2 linked regions of the Homo sapiens genome follow. The protein of the gene in region 1 purifies or fractionates together with the protein of each later gene. This does not show direct contact. Each region holds a gene or a part of one and is shown on either strand. Other genes may lie near its edges.

The links. The genes of interacting proteins can lie anywhere in the genome.
Region 2: the proteins of NEK7 (region 1) and ANKS6 purify together in Homo sapiens (affinity purification with mass spectrometry; 3 studies listed by BioGRID and IntAct, with this or other methods). This does not show direct contact.

What each region holds. Positions count from the first base shown.
Region 1 is NC_000001.11:198,295,227-198,300,775, forward strand, and holds part of NEK7 (serine/threonine-protein kinase Nek7), read left to right. Parts: intron 1-1,900; coding exon 1,901-2,014; intron 2,015-5,549. UniProt on the Homo sapiens protein: Protein kinase which plays an important role in mitotic cell cycle progression. Required for microtubule nucleation activity of the centrosome, robust mitotic spindle formation and cytokinesis.
Region 2 is NC_000009.12:98,778,532-98,783,055, forward strand, and holds part of ANKS6 (ankyrin repeat and SAM domain-containing protein 6), read right to left. Parts: intron 4,043-4,524; coding exon 3,936-4,042; intron 1,807-3,935; coding exon 1,658-1,806; intron 1-1,657.

The sequences.
Region 1 (5,549 bases):
CAGCGCAGCAATTGCATCCTTACAGGGTTGTAGGTTGGTGGCTTACAGTTCAAAAAAAAAGAGAGCTGCCACCAGCCCCGAAGACAGACAGTGGGCTTTCGTCCCTCCGACACCCCCAGAATACTAATCAGGAAAGTCAGACCCTGGAGGTCAGGGAGTAAGTCAATCATTCTAGCGATCGTCTCAGTGTGGAGGATCAAATTAGCCTGAAAAATTCAGCTGCTGGGAGGAGAGGGCGAGCAGCTGTCAGGGGCAGCATCGAGATGCACTAATGAACCAGATGAATAGTGCAAAAGCTTGAAAATAAAAACAGGACAGTTGACATTTTTCATCTGTCAAAGCAGGAGATGCATGAAAATATACTATTCCTGTTTAACTCCTTAGGGGACATTCAGATTTTTTTTTTTTTTAACACTCTGCAGTACTGAGAAAAAGGACTATAATGAACGCCTAGAATATGATAATGAATATATGTACATTTACTTAAGGTTTTGCAAACACGGAGAGACTATAGTTTATATATACAGTGTATTTTTAAGGTAAGATCTTAAAGTGTCCTTGCATTTAAAACAAAAACCACTATTATTATTATTATTATTATTATTATTATTATTGTGGTTCTTTTAGAAATTTCCTCTCAGAGTGTTTTATATGATTAGGGGCATTCAGATTGTTTTTAACTTTTTTCTCGTCATGTGAAACAACTCTTCCTAAGGTACTTCTATATAGTTGTGTGCACGTTTTATGTAAAACATAGGCAAGATAAAAATGTGTTGAGCTACTTTCCAGTTTTGATTTCCAATCCCATCCCCTTCTCATCAAGGCTCTGAAGGAGTTAAAGCTCTGTCTGGAGCACAGAAGACAGATGAGAGCCATTTTCAGCTTGTCCTGTCCCCACTGACGCTCACTGAGTAGCACAGCATGGACTAGCGTGTTTCACACACACTCTGCCTGTCTGGGGAATGTACACATTGTCCTTCCAAAATCAAACTTATTAGCACATGTAGAAAAGGGTGACTGACTTTGGGGCAGCCTGGCACTCCGTGTTGTATTCTTGCTGCTGTGGTTCAAAGATTTAGAAGGTTTTGAACAGGATGCGAACATTTTAAATTGAATTTTTAGTTTGTAACACTGCTTACCACAGTACTTGCTTGCACTTTAAATGTCAAGTTAGAACCTTGTCTTAAAATAAATTTAAATTCGATAATGTCTTTTTTAAAGTTGTTCATCCTTTGGGTCGTGTTTTTCTGCATAAAAATCTCATTTGGAAGCCTTGAATTACAGCTATGACTCATAGAGCTTTTGAACATATTTAATTTAATGTTTTTGAGACATTATCAAAAGAGTTCTAATTCATTGTAAACTATTTGGGGATCAGTTATTGCATTTAAATTGAAAAGACTGCTTTTTCTCAGAATAACCTTTATCTTCAGAAACTATTATGCAAGAGAAAATGCTCTGCATTCTCTTCCCTATGCTAGATTATAATTCAGTTTTAACTTCAGTTTCATGTTTGTTCTGTATGGTTGAGCTACACCTTGTGATGACTGTTTTGTTGTGAGATATAGTAGTTGTTTTTGTGTCATTATAGGTACAAAGAGTTTTTAAATTATGTGTTATTTTTCTTTATTGTTTTATGTTGCATTTGTATATAAAGAAATATGCTAATTCTCTATTTTAGGGAATTTTAAATGTTGGAAAAAAAATAACCAAAAGTTGCAGTAAGATTTTTAACTCTTAATAAATTTCCTCAGAAGGGGATATTCATAAAAATCAAAATGCCCAGGTATCTCTATTTAAAATATTTGTGATTATTTTCTACCCCCGTATAATATACTTGATGAAATCACCTTTTAAGTTACCATCTAACTATATCAGTTTCATTGGGGGCATTTTACAGATGGCTGCATTACAAAGTCCTTTCTATGGTGACAAAATGAATTTATACTCACTGTGTAAGAAGATAGAACAGTGTGACTACCCACCTCTTCCTTCAGATCACTATTCAGAAGAAGTAAGTCATTTTCAGCCCACATGTTCTTCTGTTGTCCATTTTGCTAACATTTTTATTTTACCAAGAAATTTTACTTTATCCAAAAATGAAAATGAATGGTATAGGTAGCAGAACTAGCACTTTTTAATTCTGTTTTCATTCTCTTGGAGACTTGCTGTCTAAAGAGTTGACTCTGCAATTGATAATGTGTAGTGCAACACAACACAGCATGTGGTGTAAAATTGGCCACTTTCTAGGTGTGATAAGAATAGTAGCTGACTCTACAGTGTACTGAATCGTGCAAAGGGCAGAATTAATGCTCATACTTAGGCTCTAGTTAATCATCATGTCTGATGGCCCTTCCTAACAGGGCTAACTCCTTATTCTCACAGTCCCAGACCAGACCAGCACACAGTTGTAATTTTCTATTTTGGCAGAACTTCCCTTTCGTCCATGTTTTCCAAAACTCGAAACACGCATCTCTTAACTACATATCTCTGAGCCTTATTATTTAAGCTTTACCTTCTCTCCTTTGACAATACCTGTCCTATCATCACCTCACTGCTATACTCAGATTCTACTGGGGAAATGTTTCGAGGTTATCATTGTAGACATGTTTAAAAAGTGTGTTAGTTGTGGCTGAAAATCTTAGAAGGCTACCTTATTAAGATCTGAGTCTGAATGCTTGCTTGCTTGCTTTGGTAACCCATTGAAGTGAGTTGTTTTGGCTCTACCCTATGTCCAGTCTTTCATTGAACAAAACATCTCCCATTTTAGCCTAACGTATCATCATTTTACGAATATTTAAGGAGGATGTATGCAGAATAGCAGTATCTCAGGTCAACTAAAATGTTTCATATTAGCTCTTTATGGAATACTCATCAGGGACCTACCCAGAGAAAATAGTGTGTTGAGTTAGGACATCGCACCTTCTCATGAGCAACAGATTTTTTGCCTCAGGAAAATGGAAAGGAGAAAAGGAAAAATATAAAACAATTATAATGTTCACTTATTAGGTAATCATGTCAGTCTTTCTATTGTGAAACGAATAGCATAGGGTCTTAGTATTATGTAAGGAAATTTGAGTTCGTGTAACTTGAATAATAAATATCTCTAAAGAATTTTCACCACATGTAAAGCATTTGTGTTCCTAGAATATAATAGGCACTTTTTCTTCTGGTAGTTTTGATACTGATAATCAGTGATGCCTGTTTTTTTCTGCATAGCATTTGTATTCAGGTAATTAGAATAAACTGTTACAGAGCAGTGATGATAATTTAAAAGTATTATCTTTATTTGATGTTAATACTATTATGTTAGCCATTTTTAATTACTATTTTGGGTATAGACTATAAATATGGCATTTCACAAAACCAACTTCAGAACTATAGGCCTGGAAATACAGTGGGGTGTGAACAATAATGCAAAATGATAGCAAGAATGTCAGGGGCCTTTCTTTGTTGTGTCATTCATGCTGTCTTCTTTTTTCCATGAAGCGCATGAATATTTCACATATCTGCATCCTCATCCCCTATTCTTCTTGACTAATTTTCAGACTGTCTGAATTTGCATTTCACATGGTAGCTGATTAGGAGATGCCGAGTGCAGCAGTGAAGCCTCAGCAGGCGGTTACCATGGTGACCTTCAGCAGGATTTTAATGATGATACCACTAGTGGTTCGTTGAAGTCGGCCTGCCTGCAGGGCTACTTCACTGCAGCTAAGTGTGAAGTTGGATATGCGGATTCTCAGCCAAGGGGCAAATATCAAAGTCTGGCCCAGATAGAAGGTCTTAGAGTTGGGAAAGGAAAATAGATTCCACTTTTTACTTCACTCTATATAGTTACCAGTTTCGAAAAGAGCTGTAAAGCAAAACACATTATATGGTGTACTTTCCAAAAAAATGTGATTCCTCGTATTGGTAAAATGTGTTGTCATTCCCTGATGAAATAGAAAGCTGTAGTTTCTAGGTAAATGTGGAAAATAATTCTTACTAAAGAAATGAATATAAAAATATGCGGACTGTATAACAATGTTACTTTAATCTATTTAGTTATGTAGAAGAGTTCTCAAAACAAGAGCTTTGAAATGCAGATGTGCTAATAAATATTTTCTCTCCTTAAGCAGGAACTCAATTTGTAAAATAATTATTCAGAATTCATGGTAGCCAAAAATCCCAAATTTGGTAGTGCTATAATGTCTTAAATTTTTTAAGTAAAGTAGGCTTTTTAGATCTTTTAAAAATCTAGAATATCATTTAATTTGTTAGTATGGCAAAATACAGGAACTAATAAAAAGTGAAGTACAGAGTTTTTCAACAGTGAACTTTTAATTAAAAGACAGTTTATTTTGTTAATTTTATAGCTACAATGATAACAGAGTGTGTAACTATTTGAAAAATAAAAAAATTTAAGCAAATCAACTTATCAGGTATGTATTTATGAGCTTACCAAATTTGTGTAGCTACTGCCAAATTTTTAAGGTTACTGCCCAAACAAGATTTTAAGGGAGGATTTCATGAGAATACTAGCCATACCTGCCAGTCAGCCTCAGTTGATAGGAATCCTCAGGAACCCTACACAATTTATTTCTAGATATAGTCATTCTATCTAAGAACCTAGAGTTTAAAAGCTTGGGATTTTTCTTTTAATTTCCTATCTTATATTCTAAAACATACATAACAATTAAGCATTAAAACAAAAAATGAGAAGTTTTAGAAAAATAAGCCTGAATGTCAAATCTTTTCTTTTGAATTATGTGAGTCTTAGTGTGTACAAATAATTAGGGTTCTGGATTGAAATATTTCAGCTACACATAAGTGATATTAGGGAATCTATATTTTATGGCTGACTTAAATATATTTATTTCTGATTTCTTTTGATGTTTTGTATTTTCTCCTTTTCTAGTAATGATCTCATCCATGTATCAATGGGCAATTACTATGTTTAGCAAGAGTCCTGGGTTGAAAAGATAGATATCTTTCCTTAGATGTCTCTTAGTTTAAATGAAACTTGGTATTGTTGGTGACAGTGAAGCAAACATTTTCTTATGTATAAGGAATTGTGACTCAAAAGGCCCGTCGTAAACTGACCTGGGCTCATCTCTCAAGAATTATTGATCATCGGATATTCTTTTCTTCTTTCTCTAACTCTTATCAATGCAAGTTCTACTAGAAGTTCCATAAATTTTCATGCTTTTATAGATGATGTTTCCTCTTTCTGAAATACCTCTTTTTCCTGTTCTTTCCAAAGAAACTCACTCTTTTCCTTTCAAACATAGCTTGGACATAAAGTTTTCCTGCACAGTTTTCCCTGACATCCTTTCTTCTCTCCCCATAGCCTCCTCCCTTGGCAGTTACGCCATGTTGTAGTAGCTTCCTTGCATGGATGCCTCCCCCTGCAGACTGTCAAGCTCCTGCCCTTGAGGATCAGTAACTCTGCTGCTTATCTGTATATCTCTAGGGCCTGGGGCCTGACACATTTTAAAAGGCTTAGTAATTGATTGATTGATTGATTGAGGGAATGTGGCAGGAATCTCAGAGTTAGATTAAAGGATGAA
Region 2 (4,524 bases), on another chromosome or scaffold:
CCCCTCTCCTGGGGCCCAGACAGACATTACTGATCAATGATAGCACCCATTCCCAATAAGCCATGGTTACTCACTAAATCTTTCCTGACCCAGCCCTTAGGCAGTCACTTCCAATAGCCTGGAGGTGGCAGTGAACCCTATTTGCCACCCCTCATCTAATCAATCTCCTCATTGCACAGATTGAGAAATGGAGACCCAGACAGGATTGCTGACTTGCTTGAGGTCTTACAGTGAGACAGGGACAGATGGACACAGAGGCAGCTCCAGATTCCTAAGCGTCTACAATAGCATAATCTCCCTCCTCCTGCTCTGGTGATAACGTGAGAGGCATCAGGATCTCTATACCAGGGCCTGGGCCAGCTGCTCCTATAGCTGAGCCTCACCTAGAGAGGACAGGCACTACCTCCTGGGAACGCTTGTAACCCATGACCACTCAGAGGTTAATGAACAGCCACGAAGGGCATCTGTGAGGGCCTGCCTGTGGAAATGGCAGTAAGAGCAGGAATGAAGGGAGCTATGAGAACAACACAGTCAGGAAGGATGCAGAGCTTGAGCCAGCAATGGACACAAAAGGAGCGCCGAGTCTGCAGCCCTCAGAAGGCGCTACCACCCCATGCAGACTGGGGAGGTCAGCAGACAAGACCAGTGTGTTGTTTTGTTTTCTCAGGCATAAAGTAAGTTTGATTTCAAACAAGTAGAGCAGGATGTGGAAGATGAGAAATCCAAAGAGAAAGTCTCAGCTTGCAGTTACAAGCAGCCACCAGAGCTTGTTTCTGGTGTTTCCAGGAAGCTGGCAGGGCCTGTGGACTGCAGGGAGACCCCAGAGTGGCATGATCAGCAAATATCCTGCACAGTAAAGCAGAGGCTGCAAACGGATTCCTTGGGAAGAGAAGTGTTTGCTTTGGCCAGCTCAGTACTACATCATGCAGAATTTTCTAAAATTCCCTGTACTTATAAATTAAGATTCCATATCAAAATCTGGATTTCTATTTTTTCCTTTAAAAAAAAAAGAGAGAGAGATCTAGTAATATGGACCCACATTCCTTTTTGAGACAAGTTCTTGTTCTGTCGCCCAGGCTGGAGTGCAGTGACGTGATCTCAGCTCACTGCAACCACAGCCTACCAGGCTCAAGCTTTTTTCTTTTTTTTTGAGACGGAGTTTCGCTCTGTCGCCCAGGCTGGAGTGCAGTGGCGCGATCTCGACTCACTGCAAGCTCCGCCTCCCGGGTTCACGCCATTCTCCTGCCTCAGCCTCCCGTGTAGCTGGGACTACAGGCGTGCGCCACCATGCCCGGCTAATTTTTGTATTTTTAGTAGAGACGGGGTTTCACCGTGTTAGCCAGGATGGTCTCAATCTCCTGACCTCGTGATCCGCCCGTCTTGGCCTCTCAAAGTGCTGGGATTACAGGCGTGAGCCACCGTGCCCGGCCGCGTGGACCCACATTCTTACAAAGCAGCCACTGTTGCCACAACATGGTCACAGTCTCCCCAGTTTTTCCTGGTCCCCTTTGTTTCCTATTGCTCAATGCCAGCTCACCTGCCACCCCTGCAGGGACTCCCTAGCATAAACCAGCCTGGGTGCATAGGAGGCAGCAGGCTCCCCGCCAGCCCCCATCTCCCTAGCCCCCAAGCCCCTTTAAGACAGGAAAAGGCAAACCTTCAGTCCACCCTTGTCATCGGGCAGCACTGGGATGCTCCAGGGCTGTCGGACCTTCGAGTGGGGCAGGGGAGGCTGGTGGCTCGGCCGGCCTTTGTCTTTATTCACCTGCATGCAGACAGATGCCAGCAGTCGAACAAGTTCCGTGTCTATGGACACAAAAGGCATCATTTTACCTGCAAATATGTCTGTTGGGCCATAAGGAGAAGACTCAAGATGACCCCTGTTAGACTTAGAACTCAGCCCTGCAGCTCCAGGGTCTGTGTAATTCCAGAATCAAGGCACCTGCCTCTCCATCTGATCTTCAAAAGGTGGCAAACAAAGCCAGCAGGGCTTAACCTACTTAACCAGAAAGAAAAACCGGAAGTCCTCTCTCATGAGGAAGGCAGGGGGACAGTGTGTTTAAAAGTGCAGGCTTCACAGCCAGGCTGCAGAGGTTCAGATTCTGCTTCTGTCCCTCCCTGGCTGTGTAACTGCAGGTAAATTACAAAGCCTCTTTGTGCGTCTGTACAAGTCAGTGACATTAATACCCACCACATAAAGGTATCTTATCAATTCACGGGAATTCCTTTAGAGCAATACAAGTGCTTTAAAAATACTAAGTATTATGAAGTTATTAGGAACCCAACTCAGTTATATAAAAAAAGCATTGCAAAAAAGATTGAGAAGAAACTACTCCAAACTATTAACAATGCTTTTTCTTGATGACTATTTCTTTTTTTTTTTTTTTGGAGACAGAGTCTTGCTCTGTCACCCAGGCTGGAGTGCAGTGGCACAATCTTGGCTCACCGCAACCTCCACCTCCTAGGTTCAAGCGGTTCTTTGCCTCAGCCTCCCATGTAGCTGGGGCTACAGTGCCCGCCATCATGCCTGGCTAATTTTTGTATTTTTAGTAGAGATGGGGTTTCGTCATGTTGGCCAGGCTGGTCTCGAACCCCTGGCCTCAAGTGATCGACCCACCTCAGCCTCCCAAAGTGCTGGGATTATGGGCGTGAGCCATCCACGCCAGGTTATTTCTTTTTTCTCTCCAAGTATTCAATAATAGGCATGAGTTTCTTCAAAAGTTTTGTGTAAACACTTCATTTAAAAACCCAGTAGGCAAAATATTCCTAGGAATAGACTGTTTTATTGGGAAAGGGAATAAACGGCAGTGGAGGCTAGGGAGAAGAGGAACACTGAAAAGATGAGTTTCTCAGAAAAAGTGTGTATGAGATCCAGCGAGAGTGGCTGCGGACTGATTCCGAATAACAAACTCTTGGCAAGTGAAGAAGGTCTCCAATGAGGTGGAGTAGGATCACTGGACTTGGGGCACAGGACTCCAACCCTCTGGCTGGGACAGATCACTTCCCGAGTCTTGGCGACCTCATCTCTTCAAGAGGATGTGAACCTCTGCTTCCCCTCTCAGACCTCTTTGAGGGTCAAACAGAACCAAGTGTGCATCTGTGAAGTGCAGGGGCCTGCAGCAGGGAAGGGGTGGCAAGGGTGGCAGTGCTGTGACGAGGAAGGGCATGCCTGCTGGCTACCCCTCTAGCTAAGAGGGGCAGCAGGTGACTTGTGACTGCAGAGGTGAAAGTCTTCTCTCCCCACAGCCAACAGCTAGAATCCCAGCACAGGGTTCAAGCCCAGTGGGTCAGAAGGGCCTCGGGGCTTCTCTCTCTCTGGGTTGAAACTCCAGGTTGATAAGAAAGACGACAGATCAGAGACCTTTCCCCTTGAGCTGGCTAACTGGAAGCCCAGGTCCCAAAAGAGGGTCTGTCACAGCAGGGGAGGGTCAAAGGGGAGTAGCAGGTACCAGCCGAGGCCAAAATGGGGTGGAACTAACGGCTACATTCCCAGTACACGACCCTTGACCCTGCAGCCTCTACCTACACAATTAAGCTGAGAAGGCCATCGCTCTATCTCCCATTCTGCTTATCAAAGGGGACTTTATGTTTCCACCTGAGTGACTCAGGATTTCTGGCTGTGAAGCACAGATGCCATTCTAGGGTGTGTGTGGACTGCAAAGTCAGACACGTCTTATTTTCCTTCCCTCTCTAGAGACTCCTAGGAGGTTGGTGCTGGAGGAAGTCCCCGGGGCCACCTGGTCCAAGTCCAGCGCTTCACTGGGGAGGGAAGGAACTTGCCTAAGATCATGCAGTAAGCTCCTGACACTTGAGAGTGACTTTCCCCCACGAATAAGCAAGTGCTTAAAACACAAGTCACAGAGGAGGTGCCTGTCTTGACTCCCAGTCCAAGAAACGCTGGGTAGATTTACAACCCTTTTCTTGAAATTACCTACCGGGATCATTCAGCAGCATCACCAGGTCAAAGGCCGTGTATCCATTTTTTGCACGAAGAGTGACATCGGCCCCTTGGTTTAGCAGATATTTCACAATTTCCTTATTCCTGGGAAAAAATGCTAGAGTTACATTCACTGAAAGCAAAGGCATGGCTTTGCTCCTGGGCAACAAAACCAACATTAACTACAAAGCTCAGTCTCTGAGCATTTAAGAAGGACATGGAAGGGCAAACAGTCTCACATTCTCTCATTCCCTAGCACGTGGGCAGGTCAAGCGGGAACATGATTTAAATCAAAGTCTAAGTGTTCCTTCCAGGAACAAAATGAAGACTGAGGCTAGATGTGGTGGCTCACACCCGTAATCCCATCACTTTGGGAAGCCAAGGTGGGAGGATCACTTGAGCCCAGGAATTTGAGACCAGCCTGGGCAACATGGGGGGCCCTGTCTCTACTAAAAATTTTGTTTAAAAATTAGCTAGGTGTGGTGGTGCAAGTCTGTAGTTCCAGCTACTTGAGAGACTGAGGTTGGAGGATGCTTGAGTCTGGGAGGTCAAGGCAGCAGTGAGCCATGATCACGCTACTGCACTCC